Homo sapiens: one gene and its partners. The protein of the gene in region 1 interacts with the protein of each later gene in a pairwise test. Each region holds a gene or a part of one and is shown in the gene's direction. Other genes may lie near its edges.

Evidence for each region. The genes of interacting proteins can lie anywhere in the genome.
Region 2: the proteins of PLOD3 (region 1) and ZNF620 interact in binary tests that used the Homo sapiens proteins (3 or more experiments, as listed by UniProt).
Region 3: the proteins of PLOD3 (region 1) and KCTD9 interact in binary tests that used the Homo sapiens proteins (3 or more experiments, as listed by UniProt).

Annotation. Positions count from the first base shown.
Region 1 is NC_000007.14:101,214,560-101,222,404, reverse strand, and holds the start of PLOD3 (multifunctional procollagen lysine hydroxylase and glycosyltransferase LH3 precursor), read left to right. Parts: upstream 1-4,823; 5' UTR 4,824-5,130; coding exon 5,131-5,239; intron 5,240-5,618; coding exon 5,619-5,710; intron 5,711-5,858; coding exon 5,859-5,995; intron 5,996-6,078; coding exon 6,079-6,242; intron 6,243-6,384; coding exon 6,385-6,497; intron 6,498-7,252; coding exon 7,253-7,316; intron 7,317-7,845. Other genes in the region: ZNHIT1 (zinc finger HIT domain-containing protein 1), read right to left, coding at 3,920-3,986. UniProt on the Homo sapiens protein: Multifunctional enzyme that catalyzes a series of essential post-translational modifications on Lys residues in procollagen. Plays a redundant role in catalyzing the formation of hydroxylysine residues in -Xaa-Lys-Gly- sequences in collagens.
Region 2 is NC_000003.12:40,509,023-40,516,044, forward strand, and holds part of ZNF620 (zinc finger protein 620), read left to right. Parts: intron 1-2,447; coding exon 2,448-2,574; intron 2,575-3,379; coding exon 3,380-3,493; intron 3,494-6,837; coding exon 6,838-7,022. UniProt on the Homo sapiens protein: May be involved in transcriptional regulation.
Region 3 is NC_000008.11:25,448,428-25,455,449, reverse strand, and holds part of KCTD9 (BTB/POZ domain-containing protein KCTD9), read left to right. Parts: intron 1-1,874; exon of another isoform or gene 1,875-1,906; intron 1,907-4,968; exon of another isoform or gene 4,969-5,070; intron 5,071-5,779; exon of another isoform or gene 5,780-5,927; intron 5,928-7,022. UniProt on the Homo sapiens protein: Substrate-specific adapter of a BCR (BTB-CUL3-RBX1) E3 ubiquitin-protein ligase complex, which mediates the ubiquitination of target proteins, leading to their degradation by the proteasome.

The DNA of each region.
Region 1 (7,845 bases):
TTTCAGTTTCTCCTGCCTGTTTTCTCCGCCTTCCTCTCAATCCCAGTCCCAGCCAGTGAGCCCCGGCCTGGAGACAGCTCACTGCTGACTGGGGAGGTCACAGCGCCCTGGGGCTTCCAGGCTGTCCTGGGCCCTCAATACACATGGCCCTCACACTCAGCATCTCACCTCCTACCTCAAAGGAACCAGGGGCCACCCATGCTTGGATACGCTCATCTTCCAGGCCACCTACCCACAAACGTGATGCCAAGTGGGCACACCCCTGCCCTGGAGCGCCCCAAGTCCCACCACTGACCCCGAGCCTTCACCTCCAGCCCATTCCCTCCCTCTCCCATCTTCAACCCCTCCTCCTCAACCGGCACTTTCCATCAAAGAGCTGGCGACGCTCATGTGTCTACTCGGCTTCACAGCTCCTTCTCCTTCACAGCAACTCACGTGATGTGTCACTTTTTCACCTCCCATCCTCTCCTTGAACCCCAAAATCTGACACCTGCCTGGTCATCCTGGGGGACCACCCACCCACGCTCTGGGCCCCAGAGCGGCTCCAGTGTGCCTTCCTCCTCCTCCTTGGACCTGAGCCCTGTCCACCCTGTGGCGGTGCCGACTACCTTCATCGAGTAGAAAGAGACCCTTTGCTTGCTTCCTTGACAAAACTGCAGGCCTTCTCCATGTCCAGGAATCCTCCGGCTCCAGCTCGGCTGCTCTCCCTGCCTCTATGGAGGTGGCTGGCCCTCTTCTCTGCTCAGTCTATGCACTCTTCCTGGGATTTTGACTCCAAACAAAGGGCTCTGATGATCACCCACAAGCAAATGACTCCCAGAGTGACTCCCTCAACACAGAACCTGCTCCCGGGCTCCAGAACTGGCCATGCAGCCAGCGCCTGGTGAGGCCGGGTGTGGTGGCGCACGCCTGTAATCTCAGCACTTTGGGAGGCCAAAGGATCGCTTGATGCCAGGAGTTAGAAACCAGCCTGGGCAGCATAGCCAAACCCCATCTCTACAAAAAATTAAAAAATAAGCCAGGCGTGGTTGCACATGCCTGTAGTCCCAGTTACTTGGGAGGCTGCGGTGGGAGGACTACATGGGCCCGGGAGGTTGAGGCTGCAGTGTGCAGCAAGCCGTGATCGCGCCACCACTCCAGCCTGAGTGACAAAGCAAGACTGTCTCCAAAAAAAAAAAAAAAGAAAGAAGGAAAAAAGAAATCACCCACTGGCCCTGTGGACACTGCAACTCAAAAAAAAAAAAAAATTCCCATCCAAGTCTGCTTCTCCTGCAGATTCTCTCTACGCAAATGGAACCGTCTATGCAGACATCCAAACCAGAAACCTAGAAGTTATTTTAAACCTCTTTCCTCGGCTGGACATAGTGGCTCACCCCTGCAATCCCAGCACTTTGGGAGGCTGAGGTGGGCTCATCACTTCAGGTCAGGAGTTCGAGACCAGCCTGACCAACGTGGTGAAACCATGTCTCTACTAAAAATACAAAAATTAGCAGGGTGTGGTGGCACATGCCTGTAATCCCAGCTACGCGGGAGGCTGAGGCACAAGAATCGCTTGAACCCGGGAGGTGGAGGTTGCAGCGAGCTGAGATCGCGCCATTGCATTCCAGCCTGGGCAACAGAGAGAGACCCTGTCTCAAAAACAAAAAACAAAAAACCTCTTTCCTCATTGCCTTATCAGCTGTTTGCCAGATTCTGATAATTTTGCATAATATATCTCTTTATTCATTAACCACCTGTTAAGCATAATAATAACAGCAGCAGCCCCAGTAGCTATCACTTGTTGGACACTTACTATGAGCCAGGCACGTGCTCAGCTCTTTGCAACACTTGAACCATTTAACCCTTACAACAGCTGTATGGGACAGTATCATCATCCCCAATTTACCAACATTCAGAGATTAAGAAATGTGTCCAAAGTTCACATAGCTAACAAGTGGCCAGGTCAGGAGTCAAAGAACTACCCAGCATCAAAAAGCATGACCTTGCCAGGCGCAGTGGCTCATGCCTGTTATCTCAGCACTTTGGGAGGCCAAGGTGGGTGGATTGTTTGAGCGCGGGAGTTCGAGGCCAGCCTGGGCAACATGGCAAAACCATGTTTCTACAAAAAAAATACAAAAATTAGCCAGGTGTAGTGGGACACACCTGTAGTCCCAGCTATTCAGGAGGCTGAGGCGCAAGGATTGCTTGAGCCCAGGAGCTCAAGGCTGCAGTGAGCTGTGTTTGTGCCACTGCACTCCAGCCTGGGTGACAGAGCAAGACCCTGTTTCAAAAAAAAAAAAAAAAAAAAAAAAACCCAAAACCAACCAAACAAAAAAAAATATGATTATGATCACTGTACTACTCTGTCTCCCCTCCAAATGCCAGGCAGTGCTCTAGGTTTTAGGGATGCCAAAGCTTACAGTCCAGTGGCAAACACAAATGATTAATGAAACAAACACAGTAAGTACAGCATGGAGTAGGCTAGGATACGGAAGTATAAAGTGCTGCAGAGCCCAGGACAGAAACACCCAACCTGGCCTTGGAGTAGTCAGGGAAGACTTCCCAGAAGAAGGTAAGTCTAGGTTAAGGCCTAACTGGTGAATGACCTGGCTAGGGGAGACAGCGGGGTATTTCAGACCTTGAGGCCAACATGAAAAAACTGATGGCTGGGAGACTGCGATGCCTTTGAAAAACTGAGAGGGCCAAGCGCAGTGGCTCATGCCTGTAATTCTAGCATTTTGGGGGGCCGAGGCGGGTGGATCACGAGGTCAGGAGATCAAGACCATCCTGGCTAACATGGTGAAACCCTGTCTCTACTAAAAATACAAAAGATAAGCTGGGTGTGGTGGCGGGCGCCTGTAGTCCCAGCTACTCCAGAAGCTGAGGCCAGAGAATGGTGTGAACCCGGGAGGCAGAGCTTGCAGTGAACCGAGATTGCGCCACTGCACTCCAGCCTGGGGGACAGAGCAAGACTCCGTCTCAAAAAGAAAAAAAAAGAAAGAAAGAAAAACTAAAAGGGCCAAGCGCAGTGGCTCATACTTGTAATCCTAGCATTTTGGAAGGCCGAGGCAGGAGGATCACATGAGCTCAGGAGTTCAAGACCAGCCTGGGCAACATAGTGAGACACCCATCTCAACAAAAAATATAAAAACTAGCCCAGCATGGTGGCCTGCACCCACCTGTAGTTCCACCTACTCAGGTGGCTGAGGTGGAAGAATCACTTGAGCATGGGAGGTTGAGGCTGCAGTGAGTTATATAGAACCACTGCATTCCAGCCTGGGTGACAGAGCAAGACTCTGTCTAAAAAAAAAAAGTCTTTGCTGGCTCTCCAGTGTTTCCCTACAGAGTTCAAACTCCTGGGCAGTGTGTATAATGCCTTTCAAAATGTAACCTTTCCCCAGCCTTCGATCCTTTCTTATTACTCTGTAAGATCCAAACTGTGAACTTGGCTTCCTAAGCGACTTGCTTTTTCTTGCTTCACTGCCTTTGCACGTGAGGTTCCCACTGAGAGAAACCCTAACTAGACTTTCAAGACTCAATTCAAGCTTTTTCATTTTTCCTTCAAGCTTTCACAGTCCCCTGCCTCCCAGAACCTGGGCTAGATGCCACGTCTCCCTGTTCCCAGGCGCTGTGCTTCCCTCTGCCATAGCACAAATCACAAATCACAGTAAAATACAGTGTTAGGTCTGCGTTTCTGCCCCCCTTCCAGAAAAAGCCAATGCTTGGATAAGAGGGGTCTTTCTCCTCTTCATCCCCAGCGCCCGGCTTGGAGCAGGCACCAATAAAACGTGAATGAAGGGTCAACGCCAGGACCCGAGGGCTGAGGAAGGGATTTACGAGGAATAGCTGGGGCCGGGCGCGGCAGCTCACGCCTGTAATCCCAGCACTTTGGAAGGCCCACGCAGGAGGATCGCTTTGAGGCCAAGAGTTGGAGACCAACCTGGGCAACATAGCGAGAGCCCGTCACCACATAACAAATTAAAAATTAACCAGGCGTGGGGCCTCATGCTTGCAGTTCCAGCCACTCCGGAGGCTGAGGTGGGAGGATGGTTTGATCCCAGGAAATCGAGGCTGCAGTGAGCTATGACTATGCCACTGCACTCCAGCCTAGGCGAAAGAGCGAGACCAAAAAAGAGGAATGACTAGGTAAGAAAATTCTAGGACTGACTTGGGAAGGGGAAGGGGGCGAACCGCGGGGGCTCACATACCCGAAGTTTTCTTCTCCACCATTGGCACAACACAACTGTCGGAAGAAACTGCTGCGCACGCGTACTAACCCCAAGGCTTTAGTAGGGGCGCCATCACTTCCGGTAGCTTGTACTTCTGCGCGTGCGCCACAGCTTTGACTCATTACGTGGCGTTTCCTTGGAGACAAGAAAGCTTTTCGCCATGTTTTATAGGGGCAAAACCACTTCCGGCCTCAGTGTGGAGGTGTAAATCTTGTGGGAGCCACGAAATGGGTCATTTTAAAGATGTGGTCACGGTGTTCTTACAAGAAATCTTATTTTCCTTTGGTCCTTGTGAAGATGCTGTGATCACAAAGGCAGCCCCTGGAGCTTCTCCGGGCAGAAGAGGAGGTGGGCTGGACTGTCAAAGAAAGTGGCTGGCTTCCGTGGGCAATCCGAGGTTCCTAGTGGCCCTCTGCAGAAAGCTGAACTCCCAGTTCCCCCAGGCCTCCGTCCCGCGGCGGACTCCTAGGCTTCCTCCCTCCCTGTCGCCGCCAGCCTCTCGCTCTCCCCGTCTTCCGCCCGCACTCTCTGGGCAGGGCTGCGGCCAGGACCCGCCCCCGCGTCCCGCCCGACCCTCCGCCAGGGGTCACTTCCCCTGTCCAGGTTTCAGCTTCCACATGTGTCAAGCGGCTGGCTCAGCCCAGAGTCCCTGTCTCCCGCCCGCCGGCCCGAGCCGCCGCCCCTCCCCCGCCTCCCGTGCGCCCGGGACAATCCTCGCCTTGTCTGTGGCGCCGGCATCTGGAGCTTTCTGTAGCCTCCGGATACGCCTTTTTTTCAGGGCGTAGCCCCAGCCAAGCTGCTCCCCGCGGCGGCCGCACAGCAGCCCGAGCGCCCCCTTTCCAGAGCTCCCCTCCGGAGCTGGGATCCAGGCGCGTAGCGGAGATCCCAGGATCCTGGGTGCTGTCTGGGCCCGCTCCCCACCATGACCTCCTCGGGGCCTGGACCCCGGTTCCTGCTGCTGCTGCCGCTGCTGCTGCCCCCTGCGGCCTCAGCCTCCGACCGGCCCCGGGGCCGAGACCCGGTCAACCCAGGTGAGATCCCGGGGAGGCCCGGCACGGCCGAGGGGGCAGAGGCTGGCGTGCCTGCCAGCCTGGCCCGGAGAGGGTCGGAGGCTCGAGGAGGTGTCTGGCCCGTCCCCCGCCCAGCGTGCTCTTGAGGCTGAGTCGCGCCAAGCCCCTCGCCCATCACTACCCTGAACTGGGGTTTCCAGCCTCCCTATGCAAAGGGACTCGGAATTCCTGGGCACCACTCCCACCCTGCCCTCCTTGGGGTCAGAGTGTTCCTGGGTGAGAAGAGTTTAAGAATGGGAAGGAAGAAAGGGAGGGAAGTCGAGTGAGAGGGAGGACAGCAAAGCACGTGAGGCCCGGAGCTGGGCGGTGGATCTCAAGTGCCATTTCCCTCTGGTAACAGAGAAGCTGCTGGTGATCACTGTGGCCACAGCTGAAACCGAGGGGTACCTGCGTTTCCTGCGCTCTGCGGAGTTCTTCAACTACACTGTGCGGGTGAGGAGAGGGAAAGGCCCCTGGGAGGGGGTCCCAGCAGGAGGGGTGGGCTGAAGTCTGGATGCCCAGGTCCCCACGGTAAGCCTGGTCAGGAGTTCCCCCCACAACTCCCCACCCCTTGCCTGGCACGGGGCAATCTTCTCCACAGACCCTGGGCCTGGGAGAGGAGTGGCGAGGGGGTGATGTGGCTCGAACAGTTGGTGGAGGACAGAAGGTCCGGTGGTTAAAGAAGGAAATGGAGAAATACGCTGACCGGGAGGATATGATCATCATGTTTGTGGATAGGTAACGGGGCTGGGGATAGGGAGCGGGGTAAGGATGCTGAGGTTCCCAGTGGACCCCTGCCCATCCTCCCCTTCCTCACCCAGCTACGACGTGATTCTGGCCGGCAGCCCCACAGAGCTGCTGAAGAAGTTCGTCCAGAGTGGCAGCCGCCTGCTCTTCTCTGCAGAGAGCTTCTGCTGGCCCGAGTGGGGGCTGGCGGAGCAGTACCCTGAGGTGGGCACGGGGAAGCGCTTCCTCAATTCTGGTGGTGAGTGGCAGAGTGCCCAAGGCAGAGGGGCCAAGAGCGGTGGGACACAGAGTGTTAAAGGCGCCTGAGGGCTGGAGACAGCCTGGGGGACAGGCCCTGGGACCCTGGGAGTCTCGAGGTCAACACTCCCCCTCCCCGCCAGGATTCATCGGTTTTGCCACCACCATCCACCAAATCGTGCGCCAGTGGAAGTACAAGGATGATGACGACGACCAGCTGTTCTACACACGGCTCTACCTGGACCCAGGACTGAGGGTAGGGAAGGCAGAGGAGTGGGCGCATCCCGCAGCTCTGTGGGAGTGGAGGCCTCAGGCTGAATGGGATTTGGGGAGCAAAGGGGGTTGCAAAGAGAAAAATGTGTGCCTGGGCGTGGTGGCTCACGCCTGTCATCCAAGACTTTTGGGAGGCTTAGGCAGGAGGATTGCTTGAGTCCAGGAATTTAAGACCAGCCTGGACAACATAGTTGAGACCTCATCTCTACAAAAAAAAAGAAAGAAAAAATTAGCCAGGCTTCATGGTGTACGCCTGTAATCCCAGCTACTTGGGAGGCTGAGGTGGGACCATCACTTGAGCCCAGGAGTTTGAGGATGTTTTGCACCACTGCATTCCAGCCTGGGTGACAGAATGAGACTCTGTCTCTCACAAAAAAAGGAAAACCATGGTGGCTCATGCCTATAATCCCAGCACTTTGGGAGGCTGAGGCGGGTGGATCACCTGAGATTGGGAGTTTGAGACCAGCCTGGCCAACATGGTGAAACCCCGTCTCTACTAAAAATACAAAAATTAGCCAGGCGTGGTGACACTCTCCTGTAGTCCCAGTTACTTGGAAGGCTGAAGCAAGAGAATCAATTAAACCGGGAGGCAGAGGTTGCAGTGAGCTGAGATCGTGCCATTGCACTCCAGCCTAAGCAACAAAAGCAAGAGAAGAAAAAAAGAGAGAGAAAAGTGAGAAATGATGTCCTTTCCACTCCTTCCATTTTAACCACTCCATCGCATCTCATTCCATTTAGGAGAAACTCAGCCTTAATCTGGATCATAAGTCTCGGATCTTTCAGAACCTCAACGGGGCTTTAGGTGAGGAGGAAGACAGCCGCAGGTGGGCGATGCGCAGCCTCTGCAGCTAGGGGTCTTGAGCTGGGAGAGGCTTCTGGAGGAGCTGGGCTGATCCAAGCCCACCTCTATGTGGTTTTGTCAGGCGTCTGAGTGGCTGGTTGTGTAAGTTGCACTGTGCTGATGGTACTACCAGAAGCAAGGGAAGCAAAAACGTGTCTGGCATCTGTTGCACACATGCTGTGCCTGGGCACCGGGCCAGGGACTTTTTTTTTTGAGACAGAGTTTCGCTCTGTTGCCCGGGCCGGAGTGCAGTGGTCCAATCTTGGCTCACTGCAGCCTCCACCTCCCGGGTTCAAGTGATTCTTCTGCCTCAGCCTCCCGAGTAGCTGGGATTACAGGCATGCGCCACCACGCCCAGCTCATTTTGTATTTTTAGTAGAGACAGGGTTTCACCATGGTGGCCAGGCTAGTCTCGAACTCCCAACCTCAGGTGATCCGCCTGCCTCAACCTCCCAAAGTGCTGGGATTACAGGCATGAGCCACTGTGCCC
Region 2 (7,022 bases), on another chromosome or scaffold:
CAAGCAATGTACTATCTTAAGCAGATAGTAGGTTCTTATTTGCTTAAAAGTCCAATATGACAATGTTTGCCTTTTGGGATGTTTAGATTATTTACATTTGATACCATTATTGATATGGCTGGATCTGGGCCTGTCATCTTTCTACTTGTTTTGTAATGGTCCCATCTGTTCTTTGTTTCCTTTTATTCTCTTTTTCTATTTTCTTTCTTTTCTTTTTTTTCTTTTGTTTGAGACAGAGTCACTGTGTCACCCAGGCTGGAGTGCAATGGTATGATCTCGGCTCATTGCAATTTCTGCTTTCTGGGTTCAAGCGATTCTTGTGTCCAGCCTCCCACGTAGCTGGGATTATAGGCACACACCACCATGCCTGGCACATTTTTTGTATTTTTAGTAGAGATGGAGTTTCATCATGTTGGCCAGGCTGGTCTCGAACTCTTGGCCTCGAGTGATCTGCCCACCTCAGCTTCTCAAAGGGCTGGGATTACATGCATGAGCCACCGTGCCTGGCTCTTTTTTTTCCTATTTTCCATAGGATTAATGGTGTGTAAATATCAGGCATCGTTCTTTTCAGTCTTTCCAAATGATCCTTTCTCTGGCCTTGGTTAGTTTTCCCACACCCATGTACTGATCTGTATTTTGTTGAATACTCTAAAGGGACCTTCTGCTGATAATTGAGATTCCATCTCTATGCAGCCCTCTCCTCTCTGGCATTCTGTCCTATAAACTCAAGCTGCCTTGGTCTCTTCAGACTCTACAAGGAAATATGCCAGGTTCTGCCTCAGTTCCCCCTTCCTGTGTTGCAGCCTGGAAATTCCTCAGGGTAGTAGCTTAGGGAATTATAGGGCTCACTTCTTTTCTTTCCTGTTTCTCAGGGATTGTTGTCGTTTTTTGCATGATATCTTGAAAATTGTTTTATATAATTTGTCTGGTTATTTTGTTTCAGGCAGGAGGGGAAATCCAGCCCCTGTGATTCCACCTAGATAAGAACTGGAAGTTTTCCCTTAGCATTTTTTTTTTTTTGAGACAGTCCCACTGTCACCCATGCCAGAGTACAGTAGCACGATCACGGCTCACTGTAGCCTCAACCTCCCCTAGGCTCAGGTGATCCTCCCACCTCAGTCTCCCGAGTAGCTGGGAGCACCACCTTGCATGGCTAATTTTTGCATATTTTGTAGAGACGGGGTTTCACCATGTTGCCCAGGCTGGTCTCGAACTTCTGAGCTGAAGCAATCTTCTCACCTTGGCCTCCCAAGGGGCTGGGATTACAGGTGTAATCTGTAATCCCTGCATTTTCAAAAACATTACCCTTTTACTTTTGGTGTTTAGTCTGTTGCCATCTCGACTTCCCAGTCTTCGTGTGTGTTGTTTTTCCTTCTCTGAAAGCCTGTAGGATCTGTTGTGTATTCTCATTTTTCTGAGATGTCTCAGTTACATGCCTATGTGTAGATATTTTTCATTCATTGTCCTAAATACTTTGTTGGTCCTTCCTTCTCTATGTTGCTTTTAAGGAGATAGAATATTTTACCAAGTTATAAACAACAGTGCACATTTACAAAATCCTTAGCTCATCCTTAGTTCTGTGGTGTGAATTGGGCCCCTTTTTGTTTGCTTCCCCTTCTGCCAGAAGTTGAGTTTCATCTTTGTCTGCTTTTCTAGTCTAGTTATCATTCATTCTCTTTCTGCCTTCTAAAATTCTGTTTATACCTCTAGTTGGCTTTGATTCTTCTCTCTCTCTCTTTTTTTTGAGACAGGGTCTCACTCTGTCACCCAGGCTGGCGTACAGTGGTGCAAACACAGCTCACTGCAGCCTCGACCTCCCCGAGCTCAGGTGATCCTCCCATCTCAACCTCCCAGGTAGCTGGGACTACAGGCATGCACCACCACACTTGGCGAATTTTTGTATTTTTTGTAGAGACGGGATTTCACCCTGTTGGCAACATCGCCAGGCTGGTCTCAAGCCATCCGCCTGCCTTGGCCTCCCAAAGTGCTAGGATTACAGGCGTGAGCCACTGTGCCCAGCCTGCTTTGACTCTTCTCTTGGGCTATTATGTTACTATCACTTTAATGGGGTTAGGGAGAGAGTGAAGATCAGTACAAAAGTGTTATTCACTGTGTTTATACAGATGTCCCCTGTGCATGTGCACACAAAACCCACACTGGGGAAAGGAGCCCAGAGGAACAGATGGGCACACAGAGCAGGGCACAGTGGAGGCAAGCAGAGATCAGCAGATGAAAATAGAGCTGTTTGCTGGGGATGACCACAAAGGGGTGCAATGACCCTTGGACTCCCCTGTTGGTGCGGGCAAAGATGGCTGAGGGCTGGCCTCATGGTGGAGTGCTGGATAACTGTCCTTGGCAATACCACTAGACCCAGTAGATCTCTGCCCCACTACTTAGCCTGATCCTCTGCCCTCACACAGGGTTTGAGCAGGAACTTGTTGTTTTAGGAACCAGTGACCTTTGAGGATGTGGCTGTGTACTTCACCCAGAATGAATGGGCCAGCCTGGACTCTGTGCAGAGGGCCCTGTACAGGGAAGTGATGCTGGAGAATTATGCAAATGTGGCTTCCCTGGGTAAGACATTTCTTCTTGTTTTTGGCCTCTGCCCTTTAAGCATCCTGGCTTCTTTATTCCTTAGAACTTTGTGGGGTTTTTTTCTTTTTTTCTTTTTTTTTTGAGACAAGAGTCTCCCTCTGTCGCCCAGGCTGGAGTGCAATGGCGCAATCTCGGCTCACTACAACCTCCACCTCCCAGGTTCAAGCGATTCTTCTGCCTCAGCCTCCAAAGTAGCTGGGATTACAGGTGGGCGCCACCACACCCGGCTAATTATTGTATTTTTAGTAGAGATGGGGTTTCTCCATGTTGGCCAGGCTGGTCTCGAACTCCTGGCCTCAAGCGATCCTCCTGCCTCAGCCTCCCAAAGTGCTGGGAAGACATGTGTGAGCCACCGCTCCTGGCAGGAGAACTTTGTGGGGTTTCTAATAACTCTCTGTTGCCCTGAAGGCTGAGCTGCCTGGAAGTTTCTGGGTGGAGAGAGCCCTGCGTTCCCAGGTTTTGAAATCACCTGTCCCTCCAACCCTGGGAGGGGCTGTACCCAAAACATGGGGGGGAAAGGAGCTCTTGGGAGCACAGCAAAGCCCCTTGTGTCTTCCAAGTTCTCTGAAGAAAACTTGAGATTCCCTTATGTGAGCGTGGGATTATTCTGGGACTCTGTGCCACTTTGTGGGAAATTTCTGTCCTCCAGCAGCATAGATTAAGTTTCTCCCTGACTCACCTTGTCTCTCACTACCTGGCTCAGCAGATAAAGATAAAGGGGGCTGCAAGAGGATCCTGGTTCCTGATTCCCCTTACCTTTTCCTGTTTCTTTCTCCCTGGGCAGCATTCCCATTCACCACGCCTGTTCTGGTCTCCCAGCTGGAGCAAGGGGAACTGCCATGGGGCCTCGATCCCTGGGAACCTATGGGCAGGGAGGCTCTCAGAGGTATCTGTCCAGGTGAGCATGAGAACCCACTAGCTGCCTTTTTGGCTTGGCTTGCTTTCTTGTTTTCACATTTCATTGTGCAAGAAGTGTTTCTTCTCTTGGGAGACTGTTTTTGTTCCTGTGGAATCATTACATGTGATTCTCTGAGTTCATGGTGGTAGCCTACCTCAACTGGGGAAGGGCCAGTCTCTTTTAAGACAGGAATGACTGTAAGATTTCTTTGCATATTCGTCTTTGCCTGTCCTCCTCACAACCTGCCAAGGGAGACTGTCTGATTGGGCAGCACTTAAACCAGCTCATTTCTTCTCTGTCACATGAAAACATTTTATTTTTCTGCCAGTTTGTTTTTGCAAAGATGAGGATGTCAGCCACCTTTGGAGGAAAATAGGCTTCTGGCAACATGGCTGGCCATCTGCATATCATAGGCTACATTGTTTAAGCACTGACTTAAAGAATAAAAAGTTTGTTTTTATAATGGAAATTTTCAAATATATGCAAACACCAGCATAATGCACTCCATGTATCCTTCATCCAGCTTCAACAGTCACAAATATCCTTTGATTCTTATTTCATCTTTCCCCCACAGATACTTAAAAAAATTTCTGAAGCAAAATTTATTGTAAATTAAAGGTGAATAACTTTCTCACTTCGATGGCTATTGATATAAGAATTAAAAATAGGCTGGGCATGGTGGCTCATACCTGTAATCTCAGCATTTTGGGAGGCTGAGGCAGGTGGATCACTTGAGGCCAGGAGTTCAAGACCAGCTTGGCCAACATGACGAAACCCCGTCTCAACTAAAAAAAAAAAAAAATATATATATATATATATATATATATATATATATATATGGCCAGGTGTGGTGGTTCATGCCTGTAATCCCAGCACTTTGGGAGACCGAGGTGGGTGGATCACCTGAGGTCAGGAGTTCGAGACCAGCCTGGCCAACATGGTGAAACTCCATCGCTACTAAAAATACAAAATATTAGCATGGACGTGGTAGCACGTGCCTGTAATCCTAGCTACTCAGGAGGCGGAGGCAGGAGAATCGGTTGAACCTGGGGAGTGGAGGTCGTAGTGAGCTGAGATCATACCATTGCACTCCAGCCTGTGGGCAGCAAGCCACCCAGGTGCCAAGGCAAGAGACTGAGGGCACAAGCTGTTCCAGTATAATAAAGAAAATATATAGAATAAGAATAATTATGCTAGAAATAGATTATAGATATGATTATATATTAATATTATTAATCATTAGTTTGTAGCATTACTCTTTATTCCAATATTATAATAATCTCTGTTCTACAATTATAACCTAGGAAAAACCAGGCCATACAGAGATAGGAGCTGAAGGGACACTGTGAGAAGTGACCAGAAGACAAGAGTGTGAGCACTCTGTCAAGCCGGGACAGGGCCACCAGAGGGCTCCTTGGTCTAGCGGTAATGCCAGTGCCTGGGAGGGCACCCCTTACTTAGCAGACCTTGGTCTAGCGGTAGCGCCAGTGCCTGGGAAGGCACCCGTTACTTAGCAGACCGGGAAAGGGAGTCTCCCTTTCCCCGGGGGAGTTAGAGAAGACTGCTCCACCACCTCTTGTGGAAGGCCTGACATCAGTCAGGCCCACCCGCAGCCATCCGGAGGCCTAACCATCTCCCTGTTGATGCTGTGCTTCAGTGGTCACGCTCCTGGTCCACTTTCATGTTCTGCCCTGTACACCTGGCTCTGCCTTCTAGAAGAAATAATGATGTAAGCTGTCCCCTCTCTCTCTCCGCCTCGGCTACCAAATAGGGAAGGGCCCCCTGTCTGGTGGACATGTGACTCGTGTGACCTTACCTATCATTGGAGATGACTCTCACTCCATACCCTGCCCCTTTGCCTTGTACATAATCAATAACAGCACGGCCAGGCATTCAGGGCCACTACCAGTCTCCGCATCTTGGTGGTAGTGGTTCCCTGGGCCCAGCTGTCTTTTCTTCTATCTCTTTGTCTTGTGTCTTTATTTCTACCATCTCTCGTCTCTGCACATGAGGAGAAAAACCCAGAGGCCCAGTAGGGCTGGACCCTACACCAGCCTGAGTGACAGAGCGAGACTCTGTCTCAAAAAAAACCCAAAAACATCAAAAATTAGCTGGGTATGGTGGTGTGCACCTGTAGTACCAGCTCCTGGGGAGGCTGAAGCATGAGAATCACTTGAACCCAGGAGGTGGAGGTTGCAGTGAGCCAAGATTGCACCACCACACTCCAGCCTGGGTGACACAGCGAGACTCTATCTCAAAAATAAATAAATACATAAAACATAGTATATTTTTTAATCTTTCTTATTCTGCTTCACCCATTCTCTGCCTGTGAAAATTTTCTGTGCTCTTCTGCAGAGAATGCCCATTACTGATCCACCCCCAAGTCTTGAGTTTAAGTTGTACCTTTCTGGATGTGACCTCAGGACCCTACGTCATCTGAGTAAAAATATTTTCTGAACAATTTTTTGTGAATGCATGCAGGCTGAAGATTTTACTTAGTCTGCAAAAGGTTTTGATAGTGGAGGGAATATTTCTCTTTGGTTTTCCCTTATTATCATGTGAGTTTAGTAGTTCACTTTTCAAACTGTTGTATTAAACAAATGCACAACCTATGAGACCTTTTAGGAAAAATGGCAAGCATCGTTACCAGGCCCTCTTTGGGACTTACATTCACTCTTGGAAGAGTTCTTCACATTTCCAGTGCTTTTTGGTTTTAAAGGCAAGCCTCCAAACCTTCCTTTCTCCTGGATGCTGTGGTGGTTGCCATGCATGGCATCCTCAACCACTGCATGGGAGCCTGCTGCTTTACTAGAGCCAGCTTGATGGTAGAGATCAGCTCTCTTTTCAAGGTTATGACATGCATGATGTCTTTTAACAAGCATCTCTTAAGGAATCTCAGCCTGTGGGACCTGTTGTAGTGCTTGAACTGCTCAGCCTGCCCCTTCTCTAATCTTGGGAGTCTTCCTCTCACTTATGGATTTCCATTTGTTACTTTTTTTATGTTTGCATCTTTATCCACCTCATTCATTTTTCTCTTAGTCTTTCTGCCCTAATTAACAGTCTTTGCAGTTTTCTGGTTTTCACACTGTTTATGGGAATGCCTCCTGGCCTTGCTTCCCTCCCGTCTCATAGAGTTTTCATGTCCCTTGCAGGGCTCTGTTGTGTGGTGATCTTAGGCAGCCATCTTGTGAGCATATTAGAAAATATCCATATATTCAGGGCAAATTAGAACCACTTGATTCTGTTTCTTCTTCAGCACAGATATTGTGTGTGTGTGTGTGTGTGTGTGTGTGTGTGTGTGTGTGATATCAGGGACTGACATTTGTATTTTCTTTTTGTGATAGGGGATGAGGCCAGAACTGAGAAGGAAGGATTAACTCCAAAGGATCATGTGTCCAAAGAAACAGAGTCCTTCAGACTGATGGTGGGGGGCCTGCCAGGGAATGTTTCCCAGCACCTTGACTTTGGGAGCAGCCTAGAGCAGCCACAAGGTCATTGGATAATTAAGACAAAGTCAAAGAGGAGACAT
Region 3 (7,022 bases), on another chromosome or scaffold:
CCTATTTATTAATTGCTATTAATAATCAGCCTCTCCCTAAGTGTATGTTATTCTTTGAAATATTAGCCATTGATAGGATGAGTCATCCTAGTTAGCAAGATATTTAGAAATAAGTTCTAGTGCATGAAGACAAATGGCTTCAGATTTTTTTCTTTTCTGATTTTTTGGTTTTTGTTTGTTTTTTACTTTTATTTATTTATTTATTATTTATTATTATTATTTTTTGAGACGGAGTTTTGCTCTTCCACCCAGGCTGGAGTGAAGTGGCGTGATCTCAGCTCACTGCAACCTCTGCCCCCCAGGTTCAAGCGATTCTCCTAACTCAGCCTCTTGCTTAGCTGGGATTACAGGGGCTTGCCACCATGCCCTGCTAATTTTTGTATTTTTAGTAGAGACGGTTTTCACCATGTTGGCCAGGCTGATCCTGAACTCTTGACCTCATGTGATCCACCTGCCTTGGCTTCCCAAAGTGCTAGGATTACAGGCGTGAGCCACCATGCCCGGCTTATTTTAATGTTTAAAGTCAATCCTGTATTTGGCAGAATTTCACTAAATTTAATGATAAATATTTAGGAGATTCTTAGTGGCTAATTCATAGTCTGAGTCACTGAAAGTCCTCATCATTTGGGAAAACATGTACTTTCTAACAGTGGAATGTAGTTCATAAATACATAAATATACAGATGTTTGAGTACATGCCCAAAAGTATGTTACCAATGGGGTGTGTGGTCAGAAACATTTGAAGGCCTTAGTTCTAATCACTGGAATCTTTGGTTTAAATTTTGAGGGTTTTTTTTGTTTTTGTTTTTTAAAACTGCTCCGAAAGAGTCAGTTATGTTGTTTGTACCTGTCATCCTTTTTCCATGTGCCTCAACATTTTCGTTATTCTTTTTAATATTCCCTGTAAGAGTTGGCATTAAGGAAATTGAAATGGGGACTTGCACATCTGCATGCAGTGTGTGGCTTCTGAGCAACTTAATGTCAGTGCAGAGTTTCTATACGTCTTGAACACAGAGTGCTTTTTTTACTTCAGAATATTCAATAATGAGCTGTGCAAGTCCTAGGCCTTTTGTATACTGATTAATTCATCATTCATTCATTCATTCATTCAGTGAACACTTAGTAAATGCCTTCTGAGTATGTGGCATCATGCCAAACATGGCAAACAGGGTAGGAAATACTTTCATTCTGTACCGTGTTTTCATTCTTGGTCCAAGAAATAACTTTTCTTCAGGTTTTGGTATTAGGTCAGAAACATGTTGGGGGCAGGCACAATGGCTCATGCCTGTAATCCCAGCACTTTGAGAGGCTGAGATGGGAGGATTGCTTGAGTTCAGGAGTTCAAGACCAGCCTGGGCAACATAGTGAGATCCCATCTCTAAAACAACAACAACAACAAAGAATGAAAAAGAAATATGTTGTTAGTAGTAAGTATCCAGGTTTGAATCCATTACGTTGTTAGAGTTGGAGAAAGGTGAAAATTTATCTGAACCTCTGCCTCTGAAGGCTAAACATTAATAAGAACCTAGTGAGGGCCCACTTTTTAAGCTTGAACATTTCTTAATATATTTGATACATAGAAAAGAATACAATAAAGAATATACATAAAAAGAGGAACATAATATAGCAAACATCTGTAAATCTGCCAGATAACCCAAGAAGTAGCATGTTATCAATAACATAATGTGTTTATCCACGTTCCTGTACTCCTGTTTTGTTTTTCTCTTTGCCGTGTGTTTTTAAATAGTTTTGTCACATATATATGCATAACTAAATTACCTTTTTTTTTTTTTTTTGAGTCGGAGTCTCACTCTGTCGCCCAGGTTGGAGTGCAGTGGCATGATCTCTGGCTCAATACAACCTCCGCCTCCCGGGTTCAAGCAATTCTCCTGCCTCAGCCTCCCAAGTAGGTGGGATTACAGGCGCCCGCCACCATACCTGGCTATTTTTGTGTTTTTAGTAGAGACAGGGTTTCACCATATTGGCCAGGCTGGTCTCAAACTCCTGACTTCGTGATCCGCCAGCCTCAGCCTCCCAAAGTGCTGGAATTACAGGCTTGAGCCACCGTGCCCGGCCCTCACCTTTTTTTTTTTGAGACAGAGTCTCGCACTGTCACCCAGGCTAGAGTGCAGTGGCGCGATCTTGGCTCACTGCAACCTCTGCCTCCTGGGTTCAAGCGATTCTCCTGCCTCAGCCTCCTGAGTAGCTGGAATTACAGGCACGTGCCACCACTCCCAGCTAATTTTTGTATTTTTAGTAGAGATGGGGTTTCACCATGTTGGTCAGGCTGGTCTCGGCTGACCTCCTGATCTGCCCGCCTCAGCCGCCCAAAGTACTGGGATTACAGGCGTGAGCCACTCTGCCTAGCCACTAAGTTACATTTTTAAAAAATCAGCTTCGGGACATACGGTATCTCAAATTGATATTATACTGTATATAGTTTTTTGTGGAGACAATGTCTTCCTATATTGCCCAGACTGGTCTCAAACTCCTGGCCTCAAGCAGTCCTCCTTCCTCAGTCTCCCAAGGTGCTGCGACTACAGGCATGAGCCATCATGCCAGGCCAGTCCTTGCTTTTTTCGTTCAATATAATTCTCTTCCAACCATAATATCTGACATAGTGATAATTTATTCATTTTTACTGCTTTATTAAAGTACATGTTATACAAATACTACCATGATATTCCTGTCAGTGGACATTAGGTTGTTTATTTTCTTTATATTTTGTTGTTAAATTGACAGTGCTGTCATGAATATTTCTGTATATGTATCCTGGCACACAGCAGCAAGCATTTTTCTAGGGAGGTAGTTAATCAAACTTTAGCATGCATCAGAGTCACTTGGAGGAGGAGGAGGACTTGAGAAAACTGCTGGACTTCATCCCCAAAGATTAATATTCAGTAGGTCTGGGGTGGGGTAGGAATGTACATTTTTAATTTGCAGGTGAAATGTGGTTCAGATGCTGCAGGTGACAGGATCACACATTTGAGAACCACCACTCTAAGGTATAGACACATAGTTGTAATTATTGGGTGTTAGAATATGTAAATATTCAGTTTTGCAAAATAATGCCAGATTGTTTTTCAAAGTCATTGCAGTAATTTATATTCCCACCACCATTGCATAAATCTTCCCTATTGGTCCACATCCACTCCAACACTTGATATTACCAGTATTTTCCATTTTAAAATTTTCTTTTTTCACCTTAGAGTTAATTATCTCATCTTTTTTTTAAATTATCTCATCTTTTAAAGAATAAGATCATGTAAATATTTAAAATGTATTTGACTAAAAGTATAGGTAGAGAAAATTGAGTTCTGTATTTAGTTACTAGTGGTGATTAGTGGTTTTGTTGGGTAAATCAGCCTGCATAAATTCAACAATTTATGTGTATTGTATATTACATAATGCACAATAAATACTTGTGTATTTATCATAACAACTTTTTGCAAATTAATTTTTTTATTGGACCTTTAGGATCCAGGCAGACAGCCAGATTAGAAAATATTTAGTGATATGGTAAATTGTTTTTGATACTTTATTAGGATTGATTAAAGTGGCAATAAAAGTTGAATTCAAATACACAAATACTTGTGTATTTATTGTGTATTATGTAATAAATCTTGTGGGTATAAAAGAAAAAAATATTTTACATGCATGTGCAGGTTTTAATTTTTAAATTTAAATAATACAGGTTACAATTTGAAAATGGTGTTTAAAGGTAAATTAAAACTAGCCAATCGTACTAGGCATGGTGTTCCATTTACTCTCCAACTCATAGGCAGCTTTCACTTGTCATGGGATCTGAAATTTAAAAATAATTGACTCTGAAAAGTAGTATAATACAGACATCATGAACTTTAATAGACATGCTTCTCAATAAATGTAAAATGCTTCTATTCTTAGGGCCTAAGTTGTTAAGGTAGATAATCCCAGTGACATGGAAACATCAGGCCACATGGTGGAGATAACACATACAAAGTAAATGACCTTTGTAAGCACTATCATTTTATGATTTATTTGGCTCAGTATGAGGACAAAAACAATCTTAGTATATACTAACTGGAGCTTATGTCCATGATATACAAGATTTTTATTGCTCCTCTTTCTCAAAAGAGTTATATAAAGAAGAATGCATGTGCCAGTCTGTTTGCAACTTTCTCCGTAACTTAATCATCTTTTCCATATGTATGACAAATTTATGTTGATATATATATTTTAAAACCTGGTTTCTAATTAGTTTAAAATACAGAGTTTTTGCATATTTGAATATTAGTATTGCAACATAACTCCTTTTTATTTGTATGGTATTGTTAGTATGTGCGAATGATTAGTTGGAAAACAAACGTCAAGAATAGCCCTCCAAGTGAAAACAAGTATATTGGCCCAACTTAAGGGAAATTTTCAAATTTCTAGAACTATAAGATTCTTCGTATTAATTTTAATTCTGTTTTCTCTAATTGACCACCCTTTGGTTATTTCACTTAAAGGAAATTGTTAACTGCCTGATTGCAAACTGCTAAAATAATTTTATTTATAGAACTAGTATCTGGAGCTATGGAGACCTTAAAATAAATTAAAACTTCCCCCCTTATTACAAAAGTAATATAGGTTCATTGTAACAAATTTGGAAAACAAACAAAATAAAGCAAAAAACTTAGCAGGGTGTGGTGGCTCATGCCTGTAATCCCAGCACTTGGGAGGCTGAGGCGGTTGGATCACGAGGTCAAGAGATTGACACCCTCCTGGCCAACATGGTGAAACCCCGTCTCTACTAAAAATACAAAAATTAGCTGGGCGTGGTGGCACGGTTTTACCATGTTGGCCAGGCTGGTCTTGAACTCCTGACCTCAGGTGATCCACCCACCTTGGCCTCCCAAAAAGTGCCGGCATTACAGGCTTGAGCCACCATGCCCAGACTGCTTTAGAATTGCATTTATACTGTGTATTTTTTTACCCTAATGACAGTGTAAGAGACTTAAATGAATATGACTGTCACACAAAAAAGGTGTGTCCTACTTCAACACTCAACATTCAAGAAATATTTGTCAAAGACCTGCTGTAAGCCAGGTAATGTACCATTTGAACCTATGGCGGTTATTAGTAGAACAGCTCAGGAATGTACTTCTTTAGTGCTGCTTATCAGCTTTACCAAGGGATAATTGGTCACCTCTATTCACAGAATTCATAACAACTTTTTGCAAATTAATTTTTTTTATTGGACCTTTAGGATCCAGGCAGACAGCCAGATTAGAAAATATTTAGTGATACGGTAAATTGTTTTTGATACCTTATTAGGATTGATTTAAGTGGCAATAAAAGTTGAATTCAATTTATACCTAGACTGTGCTCCTTAGTAGTTTTACAGCCTACAAGGAAATACCTGTTGTACTTTGATTGCCTTGAAAATAGTCCTTGCCAAGCAGTATGTGTGGTTTTTTTCTATCATCTGGTCACATTTGACTTCAGTGGGGAAGAAACAGAAGATGGCAACATCCCAACCCTCTAAATAAAACAACAAACAGGTCTTGAGTTGTATTTCATCAGTTTGTTACTTTGGGTTCCTATGTCATGGGAAAGCCTAATAGAATTAAAATAGTTGTGTTTTTTTTTCTTCATTTTTTTTTTTCTGCTCTTTAAAATGGCACTGTCTAATAGAACTACTGAGATGATGGAAATTTGTGCTATTCAATATGGTAACAATTAGCCAGTGTGGCAGTTGAGCACTTGAAATGTGGCTAGTGTGACTGAACTGCATTTTAACTTTTAATTTTAATAGATTAAAATTTAAATAGACTCATGAAGCTAGTGGCTTCCACACTGGACAGCACAGCTTTAAAACATGGCAGGTGGCCTTTATTTTCATCGGAAGACAATAGACCCACAGAAAAACCAAGTCAATCATATGGAAGTAGACGACAATTCAAGTTAGTGTATTTTGAATAAGTCATATAAGATCTTAAGCTATAATATTACATTAAGTATTAAGCATAATACAGGCAGGTGCATTCAACTTGCATCTATTTTTTGGTATGGCCAAGAGAGAACAGTGAAAGAGATGCTGAGAGAGAAAGTTGATGTTAGGGCAAGGAGGGGATATCAGGCAAAAGAAAGCCATACTGAGATGTAAGAGCCAGAGGTAAATAAGAGGGAAAAGAAAGATTTAGAAAATTCTTTGTATGATGGCAACTATGCCAAGAACATTGAATTGGGAAAGAGGTGCTTGTGCTTCTTACCCTCTTTTCACAGCACCTTCTGACTGCAGGAGTTGTTTTGCATCTGCTTTGGTCAATCTCTTGCTCCTTTGCATGTTTGCTTCTCTCTTCTCTGTCTTTACTCTCTTCATGCTCTTTGCCTTAACACAACCCCAGCTTTGCCGTGTGCAATGCCCTAGGTACTGTATTTCGCTTCGCTTTGTCCCAGGAATGTGTATAATGCAATTACAGAATACCTCACTGTGTTGCAGAGGTGAACAATCATAGGAAATATGGGGGACATGTTTTAGTCAGGCTTTTTTTTCTTTTTTTTTTTCTTGGAGAAGGAGTCTCACTTTGTCGCCCAGGCTGGAGTGTGGTGGTGTGATCTCAGCTAACTGCAACCTCTGCCTCCCGGGTTGAAGCAATTCTCCTGCCTCAGCCTCCCAAGTAGCTGGGACTACAGGCACACGCCACCACGCCCGGCTAATTTTTTGTATTTTAGTAGAGATGGGGTTTCACTGTGTTGCCCAAGCTGGTCTCGAACTCCTGAGCTTAAGCAATCCATCCGCCTCAGCCTCCCATAGTGCAGATTTTACAGGCGTGAGCCACCGCGCCCAGCCCTACTCAGGCTTTAATTATTTATGGCAAGCCTGCTGTGTGTAGGACACTGTGCCAAGTGCTTTGCAGTATTTTTTTTATTGTGATAAAAGATGGAACAAAATTTATTATTTTAACCATTTTTTAAATGTGTAATTCATTGACATTGTTTACATTCACAATGTGTGTAACCATCACCACGGTTTATTTCCAGTACTTGGTCATCAT